2 linked regions of the Homo sapiens genome follow. The protein of the gene in region 1 purifies or fractionates together with the protein of each later gene. This does not show direct contact. Each region holds a gene or a part of one and is shown in the gene's direction. Other genes may lie near its edges. The genes, in order: FBLN5 and ZNF627.

Region 1 (7,000 bases):
TTCCGAAGTACGCAAGGCATCACACGGTGAGGGGCCTGGGCTGCTAGCTGAGGTCTCTCTTCCTCTTCTTAGAAAGCCACCAGTTTCATTTCCAAGATAACCCATTAACCCATTAATCTATGAGTAGATTAATCCATTCATGAGAGTACAGCCCTCAGGATCCAATCACCTCTTAAAGGCCCCACCACTCAATATTGCAACACTGGGGATTAAGTTTCAATATGAGTTTTGGAGGGACATTCAAACTATAGCAAGGTTTTTGTAGATATGGTCAAAATCATGATGGTGGTATTTGAAAGGCTGATGTTTGAGTGACACTGGTTACTTTGATACACTTCAGCCAACATTTGGGGTACCTTACCGCGATGAGTTGGGACCACCCTAGGTGTTTGGGAGTGCTTCCTCCACGCCTGGTACCGAGTTCTGCTTAAATATGCACCGGACACAAGGCAGTTGGGGTGCCACTAATGCTCGCCCTTTCTGTGCCTTTCAGATATTGATGAATGCCGAACCATCCCCGAGGCCTGCCGAGGAGACATGATGTGTGTTAACCAAAATGGCGGGTATTTATGCATTCCCCGGACAAACCCTGTGTATCGAGGGCCCTACTCGAACCCCTACTCGACCCCCTACTCAGGTCCGTACCCAGCAGCTGCCCCACCACTCTCAGCTCCAAACTATCCCACGATCTCCAGGCCTCTTATATGCCGCTTTGGATACCAGATGGATGAAAGCAACCAATGTGTGGGTGAGTAGCCCGGCCTTTTGTTCCTCTCCGCTGTGCTTTGGTGAAGACATCGTCTGTATCTGGCATGCTCACCACAAATGGGTTGTTAGTTGCCATTCAATGCACCAGTGAAACAATGACTTACTCTCTGCATACTTATTTCACTCTTAGCAGCCTGTATCTCTGGGTTCCTGCCCAACTAGGGAGGTTATTTTGCTGTTTTGTTCACAGTTCTCCAGAAAACCAATTTTTTTCTTTATTTTACTTTCATCTATCTACCTACCTATCTGTATCTATCTATCTATAACTCATCTATATATTTAAAGACCAAGGTAATATTTTCTCAAATAACCAATACATCTGGTCAGACTTATTACAGTAAGTAAATCTCAGAGGAAGTTCTAGACAGGGCCAAAGCTCTGTCCTCAGCCCCCGCACCCTTGATTGGAACATGTGCTTCTGCAATACAAGAAGCCTTGAAGGGCACGGCCAACTGTTCTGGAAAGAAAATTAGGTTACTTGGGTTGGAACTAATGTGCTTGTGACCAAAAGGAGCCTCACTGATAGGAACTCACAGCAAGAATGGACCTCCGGGAAGAAGCAGGCACAAAGGAATTGGCAAGGGGTGTGACCAAGGTGCGCTGTGATCGCGCCTGTGAATAGTCACTGCGTTCCAGCCTGGGCAACATGGTGACACCTTGTCTCTTAAGAAAAAATATATATGAATTGAAGTTTTATTACTTTTTTCCTCTACCCCAAAAGTTTGAGAGACCATTGGTCTAGCAAGATTTTTGTTTGTCCCATTTTGTTTTTTGTTTTTCCCATTTTTGTTTGTCCCAAGATTTTGTTGTCCCATTTCAGGGCTCTGGAGTGTTGAGCTGTAACCCACTATTAGGGAAGCTGTGTTGGTTAATTTAAGGTGTCTTCTATATGCTTATATGAAGGAGTGTGCATTCTCTTTTTAATACAATAATTGCAGACAAGTGTCTTCAGAGCTATGAGGGAACACTGGGTATGCTTGAACCCAAACTTCTGCATTTTCGCTGGTCTCAAGGCGTGTGGTCTCTGTGTGTGTTGGCGTGGGGAGAGAGAAAGAGTGAGAAAGACAGAGCTGGTTAATGTTTACCTTAAACGTAGATGACTGTGCAAAGGGAATGAGCGCAGGGTCCGGTCAAGCCAACTTTGGTGGAGAAGATGGTAACATGCTTCCTTATAACCAGCATCAGGAGGAAAGACCTTTGTAACTGGAAGGGACTTTTTTTTACCAATCTTTAACTTCAACTTCTTCATTTTGTAGAAAGGAGAGTGTGGACTCCAACCAGTTAGGTAATTACAGAGGTAGGATGCCAGTCCAGCTCCCCTAACTTCTCCCCTGTCTACAATCTCCTAACTATAGGAAATGACCTCTCCTATCTGGTAGAAAAGAAATGATCCCAAAAGAAAATGCAGAGATAGAGGTGGGAGGTGCTGCTCTTCCAGGATGTCACGTGGGGGCTGGATAAGCCAAGTGATCAGCCCTTACGTGTCTTGAGGTGAGGAAGAGGGTGTAATGATTCTTTCGAGGCACTCTGCGGTTTTGGCAGGGGGCCTTGGGTGGTCGTGGTGCAGACAGGTCTAGCTGATGCCTCGGGCAAGCTCAGCGGCCTCCTTTGCAGAACGGCTGGGAACTGCTGCGGCTTTCTCCAAAGTGTCTCCCTCCTTCCCCTAAACCTCTTTCCAGGGTCCCAGTGCCCTTGACAATGAGGACATGGCTGGGAAACCTATTCCTCCCCTGGTCCCTCTGACGTCATGCCATTTATGGCTCTGAACCTGTCACACGGGAGATGCGGAACTTTCATAATGGCCCTTTTGTAAGGAGAATACAATCTAGGAGCCCTAGTGAGGACTGGCACCAGGCCCATCCATTTCCAAAAAGTTCAGCATTATGCATTCATAAGTCCTGAGTTCTTTCTAACTTCCCTTCACCCCACCCCATGGTTTCCTGGTTTTACACAGGGCTTTCAAATGGCCCTCGCTGAGGTCCCTCTGCGTATTGTAAAGAGCTGGCATTGTGGGGGTGGGGGGAAGTAAGAGAAGGGATGGGAAAGGGAGGCTCTTTCTACCTACCGCTCCTTCCAAGAACTGGGATGGAAGAGAGGTGGGCCTGGGAGCAGGTGGAAGGGAAGCAAGGCACCGTGGCGGAAGGTGGGAGGGAAGGAAACCAGATGGGGGGATCATTGAGAAAAGACAAGGAGGTGAGTGTGGAGGTGTCACTGCCCAGAGAATGTGGGTGTTTTCCAGAGCACAGCTCTGATCCTGTGGAGGAGGCATTGCATGAGCAGTGGGTAAGTCAGGGAGACTTGGGAAACATTTCTGAAACTTTAGTGTTCTAGGAGAGGAGGAAACATCTCCAAAGGTGTCTTGTCCTCTTCATCAAAATAAGAATAGCGATCAACAGTAACATCCGCAGCAGCAGTGGTAATAATATCAAACACTTGGATAGAACTCGTGTGCTAGGACCTTTACAATAATTAATGCGCTTGATCCTCATAACCAGCTACAAGGTAAAACTATTATCATTCCTATTGTACCCATGAGGAAACCGAAGCAGAGAAACTAAGAAACCTGTTCAAAGTCACACAGCAAGTGAGGGGCCGAGCCATGATTTGAACCATTCAGGCTTTGAATGAGAAAACAGGCTCAGTGAGGTATAGATTTGTTCGAGGGTGCTCAGAGTCAGTGCTGAAGTCAGGATTAAAAACAAGGTCCTTCTCTTGCTATTTTTGTTTTCTGAGACAGGGTCTGGCTGTTACCCAGGCTGTAGTGCAGTGGCACAATCACTGCAACCTCTGCCTCCTTGGCTCAAGCGATCCTCCCATTTCAGCCTCCCAAGTAGCTGGGACTACAGGCATGTGCCACCATGATCCTCGATCACTGCAACCTCTGCCTCCTGGGCTCAAGTGATCCTCTCATTTCAGCCTCCCAAGTAGCTGGGACTACAGGCATGTGCCACCATGCCTGGCTTATTTTTGTATTTTTTTGGTAGAGACAGGGTTTTGCCATGTTGCCCAGGCTGGTCTCAAATTCCTGGGCTCAAGCAATCCTCATGCCTCGGCCTCCCACAATGCTGGGATTATAGGTGTGAGCCGTGGCACCCAGCTATCTCTCTTTTTTTTTCATAATGAAACTTTTTGCTCTGTAAAATTTTGAACCTAGTCAAAAGTAGAAAGAGCATAGTAAGCACCTACCTACTTATCACCCAACTTCTGTAGTTATCAGCACGGGCACAATCTCCTTTCTTCTTTACACTCTACTCAGTGCATTAATTTAAAGCAAATCCCAGACATCATATAATTTCATTCTTAAAGACTTCAGAATTATCTCTAAGAGATAAAGAAATTCTTTACAAAAACAAATTTAAGGCCAGGCACGGTGGCTCATGCCTGTAATCCCAGCACTTTGGGAGGCCGAGGTGGGTGGATCACCTGAGGTCAGGAGTTCGAGACCAGCCTGGCCAACATGATGAAACCCCCTAAAAATACAAAAATTAGTTGGGTGTGGTGGTATGCACCTGTTTTCCCAGCTACTCGGGAGGCTGAGGCAGGAGAATTGCTTGAACCCAGGAGGTGGAGGTTGCAGTGAGCCGAGCTCGTGCCACTACACTCCAGCCTGGGCGACAGAGCAAGACTCTGCCTCAAAAAAATAAAAAATTAAAATAAAAAAACTTCCAAAAAGCACAATACCATTATCAAACCTACAGAAGTCAATAATAATCTCTTTTTATCATTAAATATCCAGGTAGTGTTCAAATCTCTCTGATTGTCTCATAAATGCCTTGCAATTTCATCACAAATGGCCAGAAGAATCCCTGCAGTCCCCGGAGTAGCATGGCTCTAACAAAATCCTGCTTTCTCAGCCACAAAACATTTCACTAACATTAGTTATTGGAGTCCCTACATTTGCCACTGAGCCAAGTTGGTTAGCAAAGCCAGAACTTGGAATATCCACCCAGAGGGATGACAAGCTGAGCCCCAAAGGGGCCATGCATACGAAGCCATCTCAGCAGCCTGTTGTCTGTTGGTTTGTTGAAATCAGATCCATGCAAATTCTGCAAATTGCATTGGTTGACAAGTCTCTTAAATGTCTTTTAGTCTTTACTGTTTCCCTGGCCACTTATTTGTTGAAGAGGCTGAGCTGCTTGTTCTGTAGAATTTCATACGTTTCGGAGGTGGCTGATTGCACTCTTGCCGGGGCGCGGGTTATCTTATTCCTTCGTCCCCTATATTTTCTTGTAAGCTGCTCATAGATCTAGGGACTTGATCCAATTCAGGTTAAATTTTTGGGCAGGCTATTTTGCAGGTAGCATCTTTGATCTTTTGCCCTCTTCATGCACTGATTTCTTCTCAAAGTGTAAGACAGTCTGCCTTGGGGAGGCAAATGAGCATCCCCTTTCACGGCGGTTTACTTTTTCTAGGGTTTGGACCCACTTTCAAGGAAGCACTTCATCCCTTGGTGCCGCATGAAGCCATGCTGTTTCCATGGGCTGGGCGGGGCCGGGCTCAGCACCTGGGTGGCCAGTCCCTCAGAGCTTCCTCCTCAATTTTTCTCTTTTTGGTTCCACTTTGGAGGTGACTAGACCCTGTCCTTTTGGAACAATGTTTGGCCTTAGGTTTGAGTCCACAGGCCCCTAGGTGTGCACTTGGGACATTTCTGCAGACACAGTGAACAGTGACCTAGGAATTATAGTCCACGAGCCAAGCAAGTTTTGTGTTGTTCAGAAAACTGGCATCTTGGCATGACAGTGATGGGACTCATGGCTCATTAGAGTGTGTCACCCAGATCCTGGACCCTTGGGAGATCTGGTGACCAGATTCTCAGGGGAGGGAGAGCCAGACAGACATGGTTAACGGGTAAGCAGGGAGGGGCTGCTGAAGGAGAGCCTCACCCAACAGCTCACAATCAAGACCCAGACAGAGGCCAAATCAAACACATACGTAGAGTTCTGAGCTGGCCACATAGACATCCCAGAGAAGGACGGTGTGGGGCTGAGGATGGTGTGGTGCTGAAGCCTCAGGGGGTGGGGTGAGCTGGTGCCGAGTGGCTGGGGCACCCAAGATGTGGACTCCCATTCAGGAACCTTCCTCTCATGGCACGCTGCCTCTAAGACCGGGTCCCTGAACGTGGCCGCCACTCAACTCTGTCAACTCATTCCCTTGGGGGCTCAACTTGTCATCTCTCTGGGTGGACATTCCAAGTTCTAGCTTTGCTAACCAGCTTGGCTCAGTGGCAAATGTAGAGACTCCATCAGTAACTCATGTTTGTGAAATATTTTGCGGCTGAGAAAGCAGCCTTTTACTAGAGCCCTGCTACTCCGGGGACTGCAGAAATTCCGGCCATTTGTGAAATTACAAGCAATATCTTGATTCTCTCTTCTAGTCCAGGATTTTTGTTATTGTTATTGATCTGAGAACAGGCAGAGAGCAACACATGGAATCCTTTTGGAAGGTGGGTGGTGTTGGTCTGAGGCTTTCTCTTGAGTTATTTTTCCTGAAAGCCAGCCAGTACTTCTTCAGTCAACCAATGTGTACAGAGTGCTTTGTTGGTGCCAGGCTCTGGCCTAGGCACCGAGGGGGATGTGGAGTTTTGCATGGCCACGGAGCTCTCTCTAGAGCTTGTGGACAAGGAAGGGAGATTAAACGCAACACAAGCACAAGCAGCTGAAATTCAAGACGGCCTCTGATGAGTTCCTGAGATGGTATAAAAAGAAGGCAGAGATAAGAAGCCTTCTGGGGTGGAGGGGACTGGAACTGGGAAGTCAGACAGGCTTTGAGTCTCACCTTGGTTTGGCCACTTCCTACCTGTGAGGACGGGGGTTGGTTTCCTCATCTGTAAAATGGATATAACAATGCCTGTCTCACAGATAACATGTGCAAACACCTTGCCCAGTGTTTACGCAGAGTATCCCATAGTAAACGTTAACTGGGAAAGATTTGTGGAGAAGGCTGCTAGGGTCTTGAGATGATAACCCAGGGGAAGAGTCACAGAGTCTGAAAATGCATCAAACGTCTAATTCTTCAAAACCTTTAAAATGACCTAAAACTGAGCCTAGTACACATTTACCTTGCAGGCCTCGAACGGCTTTCCCCAGCTAAGCCTGATGTGGCTTCACTCGGAATCTGCTTGGAAATGGCAGCAGAACCTGGGATTATTTAAATTGTGAGACAGAAAAGTGGGAAGTGGGAACAAATGTGGCATAAAGGCCGGGGCAAGTAGGAACCTCAGCCCCTAATGCTG
Region 2 (17,013 bases), on another chromosome or scaffold:
TGGGCTCAGTGGCTCACACCTGTAATCCCAGCACTTCGGGAGGCCGAGGCGGGTGGATCACTTGAGGCCAGGAGTTCGAGACTAGCCTGCCTAACATGGTGAAACCTCGTCTATACCAAAATATAAAAAATTAGCCAGGTGTGGTGGCGGGCGCCTGTAAGCCCAGCTACTCGGGAGACTGAGGCAGGAGAATGCTTGAACCCAGGGGGTGGAGGTTGCAGTGAGCCAAGATCGTGCCACTGCACTCCAGCCTGGGCGACAGAGCGAGATTCCACCAAAACAAACAAACAAACAAAATCCCAAATCGGGAGAGGTGAGGTGGGGTCTGTCATGCCAAGGAGTTGGTTTCTTTCTTTTTTTTTTTTTTTTTTGAGATGGAGTCTCAGTCTGTCACCCAGGCTGGAGTGCAGTGGCGCTATCTCGGCTCACTGCAAGCTCCGCCTCCCGGGTTCACGCCATTCTCCTGCCTCAGCCTCCCAAGTAGCTGGGACTACAGGTGCCCGCCACCACGCCCGGCTAATTTTTTGTATTTTTAGTAGAGACGGGATTTCACCGTGTTAGCCAGGTTGCTCTCGATCTCCTGACCTCTTGATCCGCCCGCCTCGGCCTCCCAAAGTGCTGGGATTACAGGCGTGAGCCACCGCGCCCGGCCAGGAGTTGGTCTTTATATTACCTAACTCCCACCTCTTTCCTCAATGATTTGAACGTTTGATCATTTGAATGTTTGAATGTTTGATCCTCGTGATCAAACATTCCCGTTACTCTCTAGACCCCATCATGCTCCCCCAACCCCTCCCCACATCCTCTCAGATATCCACCAGCTCTAGCCCCCAGAGTAAAAACATCCATCGTCTCCACCATCAAGTGAAAGCAAATGGTGACTTCCTTGCCTCAGCCATTGCTGAGCCAGTTGGATGGCAAGGAGGAAAACCCCACCCAAGCCCCACCTAACCCCTGTCCTCCTTTTCATCCCAGCCGGTGCCCACTGATTCCATGGTTACCTGACTTATCCACTCCAGCTCCTGGTCCTTCTATCCTGGGTACCGCTGAACTGCTTGGGAGTAGCAGGCTGAGAAGTTCTGGTGCCCCTCCTGCAGCAAGGCTGTCAGCGGGCACGGGAGGATGCGGGGACCGGCTGGAGTAAGCCATAGCCAGGGCAGGAAGGAGCCCCACACAGATCTCCCTCAGCTGTGAACTCCACAACGACCCACCTCACAGTCAACAACACCAATGGACACTCGTTCCTCTAATCCCGTTATTACTAGGCACCCATTTCTCTCCACCCAAGGTTTTGTTCACCATCCTCAATTATTTATTATTTTTTTGAGATGGAGTCCAGGCTGAAGTGCAGTAACGCAATTTCGGCTCACTGTAGCCTCTGCCTCCCGGGTTCAAGCGATTCCCCTGTCTCAGTCTCCCAAGTAGCTGGGATTACAGGCCCCCGGCACCACGCCCAGCTACTTTTTGTATTTTTAGTAGAGACGGGGTTTCCCCATGTTTGCCAGGCTGGTCTCAAACTCTTGACTTCAGGTCATCTGCCTGCTTCGGCCTCCCAAAGTGCTGGGATTACAGACGTGAGCCACCACGCCCAGCCGGTACCCCCAATTATTTCAGTATTCATGATCCGCAGGAAGGAATACATATGTTTTGTTGTTGTTGTTGTTGTTTTGTTTTGTTTCTTTTGTATTTTTAGTAGAGATGGGATTTTGCCATGTTGGCCAGGCTGGTCTCAAACTCCTGACCTCAGGTGATCCTCCTGCCTCGGCCTCCCAAAGTGCTGGGATTACAGTTGTAAGCCACCATGCCAGGCCATGAATACATATGTTTTATTGAGTTCTTTTTTTTTTTTTTTTTTTTTTTTTGAGATAGGGTCTCACTCTGTTGCCCAGGCTAGACTGCAGTGGCACCATCTGCTCACTGTGACCTCGACCTCTCAAGCTCAAGCGATCCTCCTACCTCAGCCTCCCCAGTAGCTGGGACTATAGGCGTGCACCACCATACCTAGCTAATTTTTGTATTTTTTGTAGAGACAGGGTTTGGCCATGTTGCCCAGGCTTCTTCTTTTTCAATGAATGTATTTACAGCTATAAATTTTTCCTTCTAGCACTGCTTTCTCTGCATTCCATACATTTTGATATGTTGGATTTTCATATTTGTCTCAAGGTTGTTTTTATTTTTTATTTTATTTATTTTTATTTTTATTTTTTTGAGACAATTTCCCTCTTGTTGCCCAGTCTGGAATGTAATGGCATAGTCTTCGCTCACTGCAACCTCCGCCTCCTGGGTTCAAGCGATTCTCCTGCCTCAGCCTCCCGAGTAGCTGGGATTACAGGTGCCCGCCACCACACCGGGCTAATTTTTGTATCTTTTGTAGAGATGGGGTTTCACCATGTTGGCCACGCTGGTCTCAAACTCCTGACCTCAGGTATCAGCCTCCCAAAGTGCTGGGATTACAGGCATGAGCCAATGTGCCCCGCCTCAATAGCCTCAAGCAATCTTGTCACTTCAATCCCCTAAACTGGGACTACAGGGAGGCACCACTGTGTCTGGCTTGGATCATATTTTAAACATCTATTCTGCCTATCTCTGTTTTTTGATTGGAAAGTTTAACCCATTTCAATTTAAAGGAATTCCTGAGGTGGAAGGCCCAACTTCAGCCATTTTACCATTTGTGTTCTGTGTGTCTTGGAGCTTTTTTGTTCTTTATTTCTTCCATTACTGCCTTCTTTTCTGTTTACTTGACTTTTTGTAATGAGACTTTTTGATTCTCTTATTTCCTTTCGTGTATTTTCTATAGATATTTTCTTTATGGTTACTATGGGGATTACATTTGACATTCTAAGTTATAATAATATAACTTTATTTTATTTTATTTTGAGACAGAGCCTTATCTGTCACCCAGGCTGGAGTGCAGTGGTGTGATCATGGCTCACTGCAGCATCAACCTCCTGGGCTCAAGCAATCCTCTCACCTCAGCCTCCCGAGTATGTGGGACTATAGGTAAGGGCCACCATCCCTGGCTAATTTTTAAAAAAAATTTTTGTACAGACAAGGTCTTACTATGTTGCCTGAGCTCTTGAACTGCTGAGCTCGAGTGATCCTCTCGCCTCAGCCTCCCAAAGTGCTGGGATTACAGACATGGGCCACTGTTCCCAGCAAAGGTTTAAATGATACCTATTTAACTTCAATAGCATAGAAATATTCTATTCTATTAATTGAGAACTAGTCTTGCTATGTTGCCCAAGCTTAGATTTGAACTCCTGGGCTCAAGTAATCCTCCTGTTTCAGCCTCCCAAGTAGCTGAGACTACATGCATGTGCCATTATGCCTGGTTATGGTATAAACATACTCTATTTCCTTTTTTCTTTTCTTTTTTTTTTTTTTTTTTTTTGAGACGGAGTTTCGCTCTTGTTGCTCAGGCTGGAGTGCAGTGGTGTGATCTCGGCTCACCGCAACCTCTGCCTCCTGGGTTCAAGCGATTCTCCTGCCTCAGCCTCCTGAGTAGCTGGGATTACAGGTGTGCGCCATTACGCCTGGCTAATTTTGTATTTTTAGTAGAGACAGGGTTTCTCCATGTTGGTCAGGCTGGTCTCAAACTCCCGACCTCAGGCAATCCGCCTACCTCGGCCTCCCAAAGTGCTGGAATTACAGGCGTGAGCCACCACGCCTGGCCCAGATACTCTATTTTTATAGTTTCCTCTTCTTTTATGTTATTTTTTAAAATTTTTATTTACTTATTTATTTGAGGTAGGATCTCACTCTGTGACCTAATCTGGAGTGCAGTGGCGTGATCACGGCTTACTGTAGCCTGGACCTTCCGGGCTCAAACAATCCTTCCACCTCAGCCTCCCAAGTAGTTAGGACCATAGGTGCCCACCACCATGACTGGCTAATTTGTTAATTTTTCCATAGAGATAAGGTCTCACTATGTTGCCCAGGCTGGTCTTGAACTCCTGAGCTCAAGCGATCCTCTTGCCTGGACTCCCAAAGTGCTAGGATTACTGGCGTGAGCCACCGCCCCCGGCTCTTTTATGTTGTTAATGTCACAAATCACATCTTTATATATTGAGTGCCCAATATCATAGAAATATAATTATTTTTATTACTTTTCTTGAGAAAGCATCTCGCTCTTGTTGCCCAGGCTGGAGTGCAGTGGCGTGATCTCAGCTCACTGCAACCTCCACCTCCCGAGTTCGAGCGATTCTCCTGCCTCAGCCTCCCAAGTAGCTGGGATTACAGGCATGTACCACCATGCACAGCTAATTTTGTATTTTTAGTAGAGACAGGGTTTCTCCATGTTGGTCAGGCTGGTCCGGAACTCCCAACCTCAGGTGACCTGCCTGCCTCGGCCTCCCAAAGTGCTGGGATTACAGGCATGAGCCACCATCCCCGGCTTTCTTTTTTTCTTTTTGAGACAGAGTCTCGCTCTGTCACCCAGGCTGGAGTGCAGTGGTGCGATCTCAGCTCACTGCAACCTCCGTCTCCCAGGATCAAGCAATTCTCCTGCCTCAGCCTCCTGAGTAGCTGGGATTACAGGCATGCTCCACCACATGCGGCTAATTTTAGTATTTTTAGTAGAGATGGGGTTTCACCATATTGGCCAGGCTGGTCTTGAACTCCTGACCTCAAATGATCCACACACCTCGGCCTCCCAAAGTGCTGGGATTATAAGCATGAGGCACCGTGCCTGGCCGGTCTTTTCTTAATTCTTTTTTTCTGGGCCTCTGTGGTAACTGTAATTTCCTCTGTGGCTGCCTTTGAATGACCTAATTGTCAATGTCTGGGTCCCAAGAGAAAAATAAAATAACAAAAGTGCAAAAAGAAAATAAAATTTCGGCTGAGCGAGGTAGCTCTTGCCTATAATCCCAGCACTTTGAGGGGCTGAGGTGCGAAAATCGCTTGAGTTCAGGAGTCCTAGACCAGCCTGGGCAACATAGCGAGACATTGTCTCTACTAAACCTAAAAAAATATTATCCGCGTATGGTGGCACTTGCCTGTGGTCCCAGTTACTCGGGAGGCTGAGGTGGGGGGATTGCTTGATCCCAGGAGATCGATGCTGCAGTGAGCTATAATAGCACCACTGCACGCTATCCTGGGTGACAGAGCAAGACCTTGTCTTAAAAAAAAAAAAAAAAAAGAAAAAAATCAATACCTTCCAAATTCATTATGCGAAGGGGAAAATTAAGCACTTAAGTCCTAGAAACTGAGTCTTATAATACAGCTTCTCTGATGCATGACTGATGCTTCCTTACCTTTGTTTTGAGACTGTAGCCATCAGACTCCTTGTTCTTCATTCAAACCTATACTAAATGATGTAGGATATGTATACCCTTGCGACTGTTACCGCTTTACAATAGAATGTTAAGCAACCCCCATAGAGTGTAATCAACAGTAGTCAATCACATCTGTTTTTTTTTTTATTTTAATTTTTTTTTTTATTTTGAGACAGAGTCTTGCTCTGTCACCCAGGCTGGAGTGCAGTGGCATGATCTTGGCTCACTGCAACATCTACTTCCTGGATTCAAGCCATTCTCGTGCCTCAGCCTCCTGAGTAGCTGGGATTACAGGCATGTGTCACTATGCCCAGCTACTTTTTGTATTTTTAATAGAGACAGATTTTCACTATGTTGGCCAGGTTGGTCTTGAACCCCTGACGTCAGGTGATCCACCTACCTAGGTCTTCCAAAGTGTTGGGATTACAGGTGTGATCCACGGCACCCAGCCTCAAATCTTATGTCTGTATATTAACATCTGTATGGAAATGTATTTCTGTTCAGCACCTCTGTTTTTGCCTATATAGACAATTTTCACTTTTCCCCACACTGGGATCATTGATCACTATTCTTCGGTGTCAGCATGTCCCTGATGGCCACCCTTGTACTCTGTGTTTGAATAAACTCTTTTTTTTTTTTTTTTTTGAGACAAGGTCTCTGTCATCTAGGCTGGAGTGCAGTGGTGCCATCATAGCTTACTGCAACCTCGATTTCCTGAGATCAAGTGATCCTCCCGTCCTAGCCCCCCGAGTAGCTGGGACTACAGGTGCACCCTATCATGCCCAGCTTATTAAAAACAATATATTTTTTTGAGAGACAGGGTCTCACTATATGGTCCAGGCGGGTCTCAAACTCCTGTGCTCAAGCCGTCCTCCAGCCTTGACCTCCCAAAATGCTGGGATTATAGATATGAGCCACTGTGCCTGGCCTTGAATAAACTATTTTAACTGGATCTTGAGCCTTTCGATTATTTTAGGTTGACAAAGGGAAAAAAATAAAAGGCATCAGCTCTTTATATCCCCCACCACGCCTGGCTAATTTTTTGTAGTTTTAGTAGAGACGGGGCTTCACCGTGTTAGCCAGGATGGTCTCAATCTCCTGACCTCCTGATCCGCCTGCCTCGGCCTCCCAAAGTGCTGGGATTACAGGCATGAGTCACTGCACCCGGCCAATTTTTGTATTTTTTTGTAGAGATGGGGTGGGAGGGTTTACTATGTGGCCCAGACTGGTTTCAAACTGCTAGGCTCAAGCAATCCTCCCGTCTTGGCCTCCCAAAGTGCTAGGATTGGAGGCATGAGCCACTGTGCTCAGCCCCTGGCTAATTTTCATATTTTTTAAATGGGGTTAGGGGTTGGTCTCACTATGTTGCCCAGGCTGGTTTCAAACTCCCGGGCTCAACTGATCCTCCTGCCTTGACCTCCTAAACTGCTGGGATTACAGGCATGAGCCACCATGCCTGGCCATAGATTCTTTATGATTTTTATTCTGCCATCTTCCCTGAATCCTCCAACCTGCCTTTTTTTTTTTTTTCAGGCAAAGTCTTGCTCTGTCGCCCAGGCTGATGTGCAGTGGCACGATCTCAGCTCACTGCAACCTCCACCTCCCAGGTTCAATAATTTTTTGTATTTTTAGTAGAGACGGGGTTTCACTATATTGGCCAGGCTGGTCTCAAACTCCTGACCTCGTTATCCTCCTGCCTCAGCCTCCCAAAGTGCTGGGATTACAGGCATGAGCCACTGTGCCCAGCTTAACCTGCCTTTTTTTTTGAGACAGTTTCTCTCTTGTTGACCAGGCTAAAGTGCAATGGTGTGATCTTGGCTCACCGCAACCTCCACCTCCCCGATTCAAGCGATTCTCCTGCCTCAGCCTCCCGAGTAGCTGGGATTACAGGCATGTGCCACCAGGCCCGGCTAATTTTGTATTTTTATTTATTTATTTATTTTATTTTATTTATTTATTTATTTTTGAGACGGAATCTCGCTCTCTCTCCCAGTCTGGAGCGCAGTGGCGCCATCTCGGCTCACTACAAGTTCCGCCTCCCAGGTTCACGCCATTCTCCTGCCTCAGCCTCCCGAGTAGCTGGGACTACAGGCGCCCACTGCCACGCCCGGCTAATTTTTTGTATTTTTAGTAGAGATGGGGTTTCACCGTGTTAGCCAGGATGGTCTCGATCTCCAGACCTCGTGATCTGCCCGCCTCGGCCTCCCAAAGTGCTGGGATTACAGGCATGAGCCACGGCGCCTGGCCTAATTTTGTATTTTTAGTAGAGATGGGGTTTCTCCATGTTCCGAACTCCCGACCTCAGGTGATCCGCCTGCCTCGGCCTCCCAAAGTGCTAGATTACAGGCGTGCTCCATCGCACCCAGCCCAACCTGCCTTTTAATACTAATACATTACTTTGGGTCTCATCCCACATCACTTCATCAGAGAGCATCCTTCCTCTCACCTCAGTTATTTCTACTTTTTTTTCCACGTATAGATGTTTTTTCAGGGACCGGAGGGTATGGGAGGAAGCCTTGGCACGCCTCATCCCAAATGCCCGTTTCCCGGAACATCAGGCCCTTCCTCCTCTTCCTGTCCTCCCTGGCCTAGCCTGGGCTCCCTCCCGTTCTGAGGCAAGGCGATTGCTCCATGTCACAGTGAGTGTGGAGTTCCCTGCACATACTGGTGACCTTGTGTCCGGAAGGAATTAGAAGGAAGAGCTCATGGAGTGCCAGAAGAAGACAGTGCCTACTCTGGCAAGCTAGAAGCAAGCTCTGCATTAAATGCAAATATTGGCCGGGCACGGTGGCTCACATTTGTAATCCCAGCACCTGGGGAGGCCTAGGCAGGAGGATCACTTGAGCCCAGGAATTCACGACCAGCCTGGTCAACATAGTGAGACCCCATCTAACCCACCCCACCCCCGTCACACACACAGCACCAACAACAAAATAAAATTAGCAGAGTGTGGTGGGGCGTGACTTTGGTCCCAGCTACTAGGGAGGCTGAGGCAGGAGGATCGTTTGAGCCCGGGAGATTGGGGCTGGAGTGAGCCGAGATCATGCCACTGCAGTCCAGCCTGGGTGACAGAGCAAGACCCTGAAAGAAAAAAAAGAAAGGAGGGAGGGAGGGAGGATGGAAGGAAGGAAGGAAGGAAGGAAGGAAGGAAGGAAGGAAGGAAGGAAACCAAAACAAGGCCACGCGTGGTGGCTCACGCCTGTAATCCCAGCACTTTGGGAGGCTGAGGTGGGCGTATCACTTGAGGTCAGGAGTTAGAGACCAGCCTCGGTAACATGGCGAAACCCCGTCTCTACGAAAAATACAAAAATTAGCCAGGCGTGGTGGCGGGTGCCTGTAATTCAGCTACTCGGGAGGCTGAGGCACGAGAATCGCTTGAACCCGGGAGGCAGAGATTGCAGTGAGCTGAGATCGCGCCACTGCACTCCAGCCTGGGCGACAAAAGCGAAACTCCGTCTCAAAAAAAAAAAAAAAAAAAAACCAAAACAAACCCTCAAATATCCCTCGGGCTGGGTGCAGGGAGGAAACTCGGCCTGAGAGGCGCAGTGGCTAGAACCAGTCAACACTGCTACGCACAGCCACGTTTCCATGGCTTCCTACGTCACTCAGGCCTTAGGGGGCGGGGTATGTCACCCTATCCAATCAGGGGCGCTGGGGCGGGGCCCTGCCAACTGTCCATTCAGATGGGCCCGGGAGAGGAGGGCAGGGCCTGCGCCTCCCTACGGAGCCTTTGTTTCTGGCGACCGTCCCCACCCGGGCTCGCGTCTCCGTTTCTCCGAGAGGCCCAAGGTGTCTCCGCCGCAGCCTCTGTCGCGCCGTGACCTGTACAGGTCGCGGGAGTCGTAGGGAGGACGCCGGGACACCTGGAAGCCGAGAAATGGTGCGTGTGAGGGGTCAGGCGTCCCCAGACCTGGGGGAGGGGCTGGTTGGAACCGGCCGGAACCGGCTGTGGAGGGACCTAGGCCTCCCTGCGGCGACTCCGGGGTCTGGGACCCGAGTTCCCTCGGCCGCAAGGTGGGGCTGGGCCAGGAGCTGGGACCCCGGTCGTCCTGTCCCGTCCCTGCGCGACGCCTGCGGCCCCGCAGCCCCGCGTCTCCCCACATGGTGCGGGGGCCGCGGGAGGGTCATGGGGGTATCCCTCCTCGGATGTGGTTCGTGTTGCAGGAGCTGCGGTCTGTGGCCGCCCCCCACAGTCCCGCCTTTCTCCCGTTAAAAATTTAGAGTTTATTTGAGCAAACAGCGGCTCATCGATGGAGAAGCTCCCGGTCGTGGTTTGTGGCTTGGGGATCCGTTGGAGGGAATGGAAGGAAAGGCTGTAAGGTGCAGGAGGAAGCGAACCAAATTCAGTACTTGGTTGGTGACAGTTATGCAGTCGCCTTATTTGCTCTATCTAGGTGGACATTTTCTGCTTATGTAGTCAGAGGTGGATTGGTGGTTGTGGTTTATTAACCCTAAATTTTATTTCCTTATAAACTGGTAATTTATAAGAATTTCATTTGAGGCTGGAGCGCGGTGGCTCACGCCTGTAATCGCAGCGCTTTTGGAGGCCAAGACAGGAGGATCGCTTGGGCCCAGGAGTTGAAGATCAGCCTCGCAATATAGCGAGACCCCATCTCTGTTAATTTTTTTTAAATGAACATATTCAGACTGAGACCAAAAAACTACTACAAATTTTTAAAATATAAAATCAAATAAAAGAATTTCATTCGACTTAGATTTCTGTTTCCTTGGGTAGGAAACCAGGACACCATAGCCACAGCCCTCTAATTGTCTCCAAATTAATTATTTTAACACTCCCCAGGGGGACAGGGTCCCAAATCCTTGACCTTGTTCCCCTAGCCTGACTCCTCTGGCGCTTGCAAATAATTCTTGATACCACTTCTTTCACCATATTCCCAAAAGGTAACTCCAGTCACGACATTATCAACTCTTTGTCCTTTATTGCACATTTCAAACTAATTAATTTGTATTATTTTTTCAAGGAGCAATCGATTGGTCTTTTAAAAATATTTGCTTTCTGTTTCTGAACATTTCACAGGAGAGGAAAGCAGAGAATACATGTATGAGACCCTGCTGTGAAAAAACCTTTGTGCCTCTTCTCCTTTTCTCTCTCCTAGGCACAGGGATGTTCTCAGAATGTCTTTTGGTTGGCCTGGTGCCATGGCTCATGTCTGTAATCCCAACACTTTGGGAGGCCAAGGCGGGAGGATCACCTGAGGCCAGGAGTTTGAGACCAGCCTGAGCAACATAGTGAGACCCGGACCCTAAAATAAAAAAAACAAAAAACAGTGTCTTTGGGTTGGGGTTCCCCTTTGGAAACTTTAAACTGTGATATGTCTTCAGAGCATCCTCCTTTCCTGGTCCTGGGCTTCAGGGCTGTTTGGGCTGACACAGGATGCCCACAGCAGCCAGATCTGTTGAAGGGTCTGGTATCAGCCTGCTCCCACTGGACAGCCTGAAGTACGGGGTGGGGCCTCTTAGTGGAGGAGCTGGGTGTCCTGGGGTCGGAGGAATCTCTTGATATCCCCTCCCTCTCAAAGCTCACCCCTGGGACACTCAGCTTTTCTTCCCCTAATTCCAGATCCCATTCCTTGGGGGACACATTGGTGTCCAGCCAAATGGATGATGGTATTGAGGGGAAAAACAGATATGATTCTTGCCCTCTGGATTCTTTTAGACTGGTGAAGTGAGAAAACTTATCCCAAGGACAGGAAAACCCATCCCACTGAGGTGATGCAAGAACTTGAAAAGCAAAATGTACTTCAGGCAGATGGAGGCAAAATGCAGTGTCTCTTGGAAGGGTGGTCACTGAGCCCTTCAGTGAGCAGGTTAGGGGGTGGACGATATCCCAGGTGATAGAATGACCTGACTTAGGCCGGGCGCGGTGGCTCACACCTGTAATCCCAGCACTTTGGGAAGCTGAGGTGGGCGGATCACTTGAGGCCATGAGTTCGAGACCAGCCCGGCCAACATGGCGAAACCCTGTCTCTACTAAAAAATACAAAAATTAGCTGGGTGTGGTGGCAGGTGCCTCTAATCTCAGCTACTGGGGAGGCTGAGGCATGAGAATCGCTTTAACGTGGGAGGCAAAGGTTGCAGTGAACCGAGATCACACCACTGCACCCCAGCCTGGGTGACAGAGCGAGACTCTGTCTCAAAAAAAAAGATGTGAAACTTGAGTCAGACGTACCTCTGTTCCAGGTTAGCGCAGCCCCTTCCTGGGTTTGTCCCCTGCAAAAGATTTGTTCACTTATTGCAGTTTCAGTTTTTTTCTTTTTTAAGTAACTATAAATGTATTTCATCAGTAGACCTTGAAATATAAGACAGTTTTGCAAAGAGGCAAGAAGGAAGTGGATTTCAGAAAACATTAAATATCTAGTCTTATGTTTGTTAAAAATTATTACTTATGGCTGGGCGCGATGGCTCACGCATGTAATCCCAGCACTTTGGGAGGCTGAGGCAGGCAGATCACGAGGTCAGGAGATCGAGACCATCCTGGCTAACACAGTGAAACCCTGTCTCTACTAAAAACACAAAAAATTAGCTGGGCATGGTGGCGGGTGCCTGTAGTGCCAGCTACTTGGGAGGCTGAGGCAGGAGAATGGCATGAACCTGGGAGGCGGAGCTTGCAGTGATCCATGATTGCGCCACTGCACTGCAGCCTGGGCAACAGAGCAAGACTCCATCTCAAAAAAAAAATTATTATTTTTTTCTTTCCCAAAGCAAGTGTAGTAAGTTTCTCAAGTATGTTGTTTTTTTTTGTGGGGGTGGGGTGTGGTGATTTAAAATGGAATTCCAGGGCTTAGTGTTGGGAATACTAAGGAAAAGAGAGAGAGAAAACTCTCTTCTATCATGACTGCAGAAAATGAATACATTTCCACAAGTAAGTGTAGCAAATAAATTGGTGAATTACAGAGATTCACCAAAACATCAATTCCTCTGCTTTGCAGGGTGGCAAACTTGTGACAGTGGATAACTGTTCTCTTCCTGTTATCTAGACATCAGAGTTTAATGCGAAGTCCTAGTAGGACAGGACTTGGTAACTCCTAGAAGTGTTCCAATATGATTTAGTACATGATTTGTTACCATAGAAAGAATAAATAACATGTTTATTGTCTGAAGAGGATGGATACTTTTACTTTTCCTGTTAAGGTATGAAATATAAGTGCCTTACAATTTCCTTCCTTGCTATAAACAGTGAATTTGAGTGATTTTACTGGAATCTTCAAACCCTGGGTATTTTCTCATTGAAAATTAAATGCATAACCTTGACTGGGAAACAGAGACAGCAGACTAGTGACTTGAAACTAAGACCAATCTTGAGCCTTCAAAGAGAGGACATTACAGGCCCAGTGGTTCTTGCTGAGGAGCCTCCCCTGCAGTGTCCCAGCTGCTCACAACTGACTTTGGGTGGAGCCCTTTATAGTGAGAGAAGCTCAGAGCCCTGGAAAGCTGGGGATTCATAGGCAGAGGTGGTTGAGGTGATGCCTTTCTGAGAATGTACTTGCTATTATCTTGGGTCTGTTTGTAGACGTTTCTAATGAAACAAATCTGGATTTAGGTAAGGAGTGATTTATTTTATTTTTATTTATTTATTTTTTTTGTGTGTGACAGGGTCTCACTCTGTCTCCTAGGCTGGAGTGCAGTGGTGCGATCATAGCTCACTGTAGCCTTGATCTCCTGGGCTCAAGGAATTCTCTCACATCAGCCTCCCAAGTACCTAGGACTAAAGGCATGTGCCATGATGCCTGGCTTATATTTTTAAAAAAGTTTTTTTAAGAGAGACAGGACGTTGTTATGTTGCCCAGACTGGTCTCTAACTCCTGGCCTCGAGCAATCCTCCCACCGTAGCCTCCCCAAATTCCAGGATTATGGGGGTGGGGCGGGGAGCACCACCACACCAGACAGGAATGACTATTCTAAAGGATAATCGAAAGGGGAGAAGGCACCAAGTATAAAATCTTCAAGCATCTCAGGCTGGGCGTGGTGGCTCACGTCTGTAATCCATGCACTTTGGGAGGCCGAGGTGGGTGGATCACAATGTTAGGAGTTTGAGACCAGCCTGACCAACATAGTGAAACCCCATCTCTACTAAAAATACAAAAATTAGCCGGGCATGGTGGTGCGTGCCTGTAATCCCAACTACTCGGGAGGCTGAGGCAGGAGAATCGCTTGAACTCAGGAGGCAGAGGTTGCAGTGAGCCGAGATCGCGCCACTGCACTCCAGCCTGGGCGACAGAGTGAGACTCTGTCTCAAAAAAAAAAAAAAAAAAAAAAAAATCTGCAAGCATCTCAGAGTTTATGCAGAAAAGGATTTTCTTTTGTAGGGAGGAGCAAATGATGAGAAAGAAGGTGGGAGGTGGAAGGCAGGATGCAGGGTGCAAAATCCCACCTAGATCCTGAAGGCAGTCTCTTCTTAGGAGGGTCATCAGAGGGGTTGTATATAGGCTCAGGCTGGGGGTGGGTCAAAGTTCAGGGGCTGGAGGAAGAAGAGAAACTTAACCAAAGTTTTGTTAACAGGTACTTTGTTCTGACTGATCACTGAAGACAGAGCTGTTCAGCTAATCAATTGTGAGGAAAATAAAGGGAATTTCTAGTCTGTGTATGGCTTTGTCATAGGTAAAAAAGCAGTGTCATCTAAGTCATAATGAGAAGAGTGTTTCTTTGCGTAACCTGCTCCTGCAGAATACAAAAGACGGGGGAGTTTCTTTAACCATAGCTATTTCCAGGATTACATACCTGCCCAATCTTCTGCCGCCATTTTCCCTTACATCCATCCCTTCCATTTCGCCATTTCTGATTTATATGCAGTTGCTGAGAAGTATGGGTGATCCCTGGGGCTTGTGACTGGCATCTGCAGTGGGGCACTGTTATGGTAATGAGCCCTGAACTTGTGGGGTCCCCGTTAACTCTGGGTAGTGTCAGAATTGATTTGAATGCTTAATTGGTGTTGGAGAATTGGAGATTTGGTTGTGTTCAGCAAACACCACACATTTGGTGTCAGAAATGGTATATGAAAAAAGACACTAGAGATCAGAACCTTCACCTGGCTCTGGGTAAGTGTTCGCTGGTGAGAATTGAGACCCTGGAGGAGGGAGCATTTCCACACTGTGAGGAGAGGAGAGTGGGTTGTGTGAAACACCTGTGGACTCACTACCCAGGTTCATAAATGGGCATTGGGCATTTCTGGTATGTCCTGATCTTGTCTCCCGTCTGTACCCACAGGTGACCAGGTCCTCATTTTTAAAAGGTGGTTCTTCATAGTTTTACCATCTATTTATCATTAGGCTGAATTTTGCTTGGCTCTTCCTCTTTTGAATTTTTAGTAAGTTATTACCATTAATATTATGCCAAAAAGAGTTTTTTTTTGGTTTCTTTGCCTGTTTGTTTCACGCATGCTGGTTTCTGCATTTAGTTTGGGGGTTAGGATTTCAGCAAATGAAAGTTTGGGCAGGGGATGGTGGTGGAATACAAACATTCAGTCTGTTAACAATCCTAACTGTATTTTGTACGACATCTTGGCTATTCTTAGCCTTTTTTTTTTTTTTTTTTGAGATGGAGTCTCACTGTGTAGCCCAGGCTGGAGTGCAGTGGCGCTCTTGGCTCACCGCAACCTCTGCCTCCGGGCTCAAGTGATTCTCCCACCTCAGTCTCCCAACAAGCTAGGACTACAGGTGCACAGTACCACACCAGCTAATTTTTGTATTTTTTTTTTTTGTGGAGGCGGGGTTTTGCCATGCTGTCTAAGCTGGTCTTGAACTCCTGGGCTCAAGCAGTCCACCCAGCTATGCCTCCCAAAGTGTTGGGATTATAGGTGTGAGCCACTACGCCCGGCCTTATTTTTGTCTGTTTTTTGTGGAAGTGATATCATCCTATATGTTATATTGTATGCCATCTGTCTATTTCACATAGCTGTGAATCTTCCATGAAATGGTATTTTATTCACTATTTTACTTAATAAACTTTATTTTTTAGACCGGTTGTAGTTTGACAGAAAAATTGAACAGATAATACTTAGAGTTTCCTTATTCTCCTCCACAGGTGATTGTTTTCCCCTACTTTTCTTTTTTTTTAAGAGACGAAGTCTTGCTCTGTCACCCAGGCTTGAGTGCAGTGGTGCGATCACTGCTCACTGCAGGCTAGACCTCCAGGGCTCAAGTGATCCTGCCGCCTCAGCCTCCCAAGTAGCTGGGACCACAGGTGTGCACCACCACATCTGGCTAATTTTTTTTTTTTTTGGTAGATGGGGGTCTCACTATGTTGTCCAGGCTGATCTCTAACTCCTGGCTCAAGTGATTCTCCCATCCTGGCCTCCCAAAGTACGTAAATATGATATCATATATATCATATAATTGATGAACCAATATATCATATATGATGATGATCAGAATTGGTGAGCCAATATGTTACTAACTAAAGTTTACACTTCATCAAAATTGGTAATTTTTGTTCTTCAAAGGACACCAAGAACTTGAAAAGATAATTCACCAAGTGGAAGAACGACTTGCAAATCCTGTGTCTGGTGGGGCATCTTATCCAGAAGCAGCCTGAGTCTCAGTCCCCTCCATCACACTCCATCAGGGTGGGGGCTGAATTGGCAGCCAGGACTCCCAGGTATCCTGTCCCATCACTGTAGGAGGCAGTCTACCTCCTGGACCTCTCTCTGGGCAGTTGTGCACCTGCAATCCTGGATCTCACCCAGATCATGGGGTGACAACAGGGAGTGGCCATCCAGAGAGAAATCTGAGCCTGGTGTTTTGGGTTTGTGGGTGGGAGGTACTCTCAGGACACCCTCCCCCTCCATGGATTCAGACTTGGGTGGGCCCAGCAGAATGGCATGTGTGGTTCCCAGCTCCTTCATCCCCAGTGGGAGGGAGCCTGTCATCCCCTATGCATTTCAGATAAATGAACCAGGGTCTCAAGTTTACAGCCTTGTTCCCTGTTAAAGAGAGATTGCACTGGAAACTTGTTAAGAATGTCAAGGAAAAGTTTATTAAGCACAATTGCAGTGAGTCATGACAGCTGTAATAGGGGAGGGAGATTGAATTCAGCCTTGAATGCAGCAGGAATATTATTGGATTTATAGCCAATGTACAAGGTGAGGGAGAGAATGGAACTTGGTTGGGTCTCATAGGTGGGAGAAAAAGAACTTGATTGGATATTAAGGTAGGAGGAGTCTCTATAAACTACCTTAGATGGATTCTTGCTGAAACTGACTTCTGCAGGCCAGTGCCAAGCCCTAGTCAAAAAGAGGGCTCTGAGGAGCTTGACTCAAGTTTGGTGAAGGAAGGAGTACTTGAGACCTCTTCAGCCTAGTTTTTCTTTCTTTCTTTTTTTTTTTTTTTTTTTTTGAGATGGAGTCTTGCTCTGTCACCCAGGCTGGAGTGCAGTGGTGCGATCATGGCTCACTGCAACCTCTGCCTCCCAGGTTCAAGCAATTCTCTGCCTCAGCCTCCCAAGTAGCTGGGGTTACAGGTGCCCACCACCAGGCCTGACTAATTTTTTTTTGTATTTTTAGTAGAGACAAGGTTTCACCATCTTGGCCAGGGTGGTCTTGAACTCCTGACCTCATGAGCCACCGTGCCCAGCCTCTTCAGCCTAGTTTTTCCCAGGGCTCTGTATTAGTCTGTTTTCATGCTGCTAATAAAGACATACCCAAGACTGGGTAATTTATAAAGGAAAGAGATTTCATTGACAGGTCAGTATGGCTGGGGAGGCCTCAGGAAACTTACAAGTATGG

What was found.
Region 2: the proteins of FBLN5 (region 1) and ZNF627 purify together in Homo sapiens (co-immunoprecipitation; 2 studies listed by BioGRID and IntAct, with this or other methods). This does not show direct contact.

What each region holds. Positions count from the first base shown.
Region 1 is NC_000014.9:91,930,695-91,937,694, reverse strand, and holds part of FBLN5 (fibulin-5 isoform 1 precursor), read left to right. Parts: intron 1-493; coding exon 494-748; intron 749-7,000. UniProt on the Homo sapiens protein: Essential for elastic fiber formation, is involved in the assembly of continuous elastin (ELN) polymer and promotes the interaction of microfibrils and ELN. Stabilizes and organizes elastic fibers in the skin, lung and vasculature.
Region 2 is NC_000019.10:11,588,478-11,605,490, forward strand, and holds the start of ZNF627 (zinc finger protein 627), read left to right. Parts: upstream 1-9,005; 5' UTR 9,006-9,150; coding exon 9,151-9,153; intron 9,154-15,732; exon of another isoform or gene 15,733-15,887; intron 15,888-17,013. UniProt on the Homo sapiens protein: May be involved in transcriptional regulation.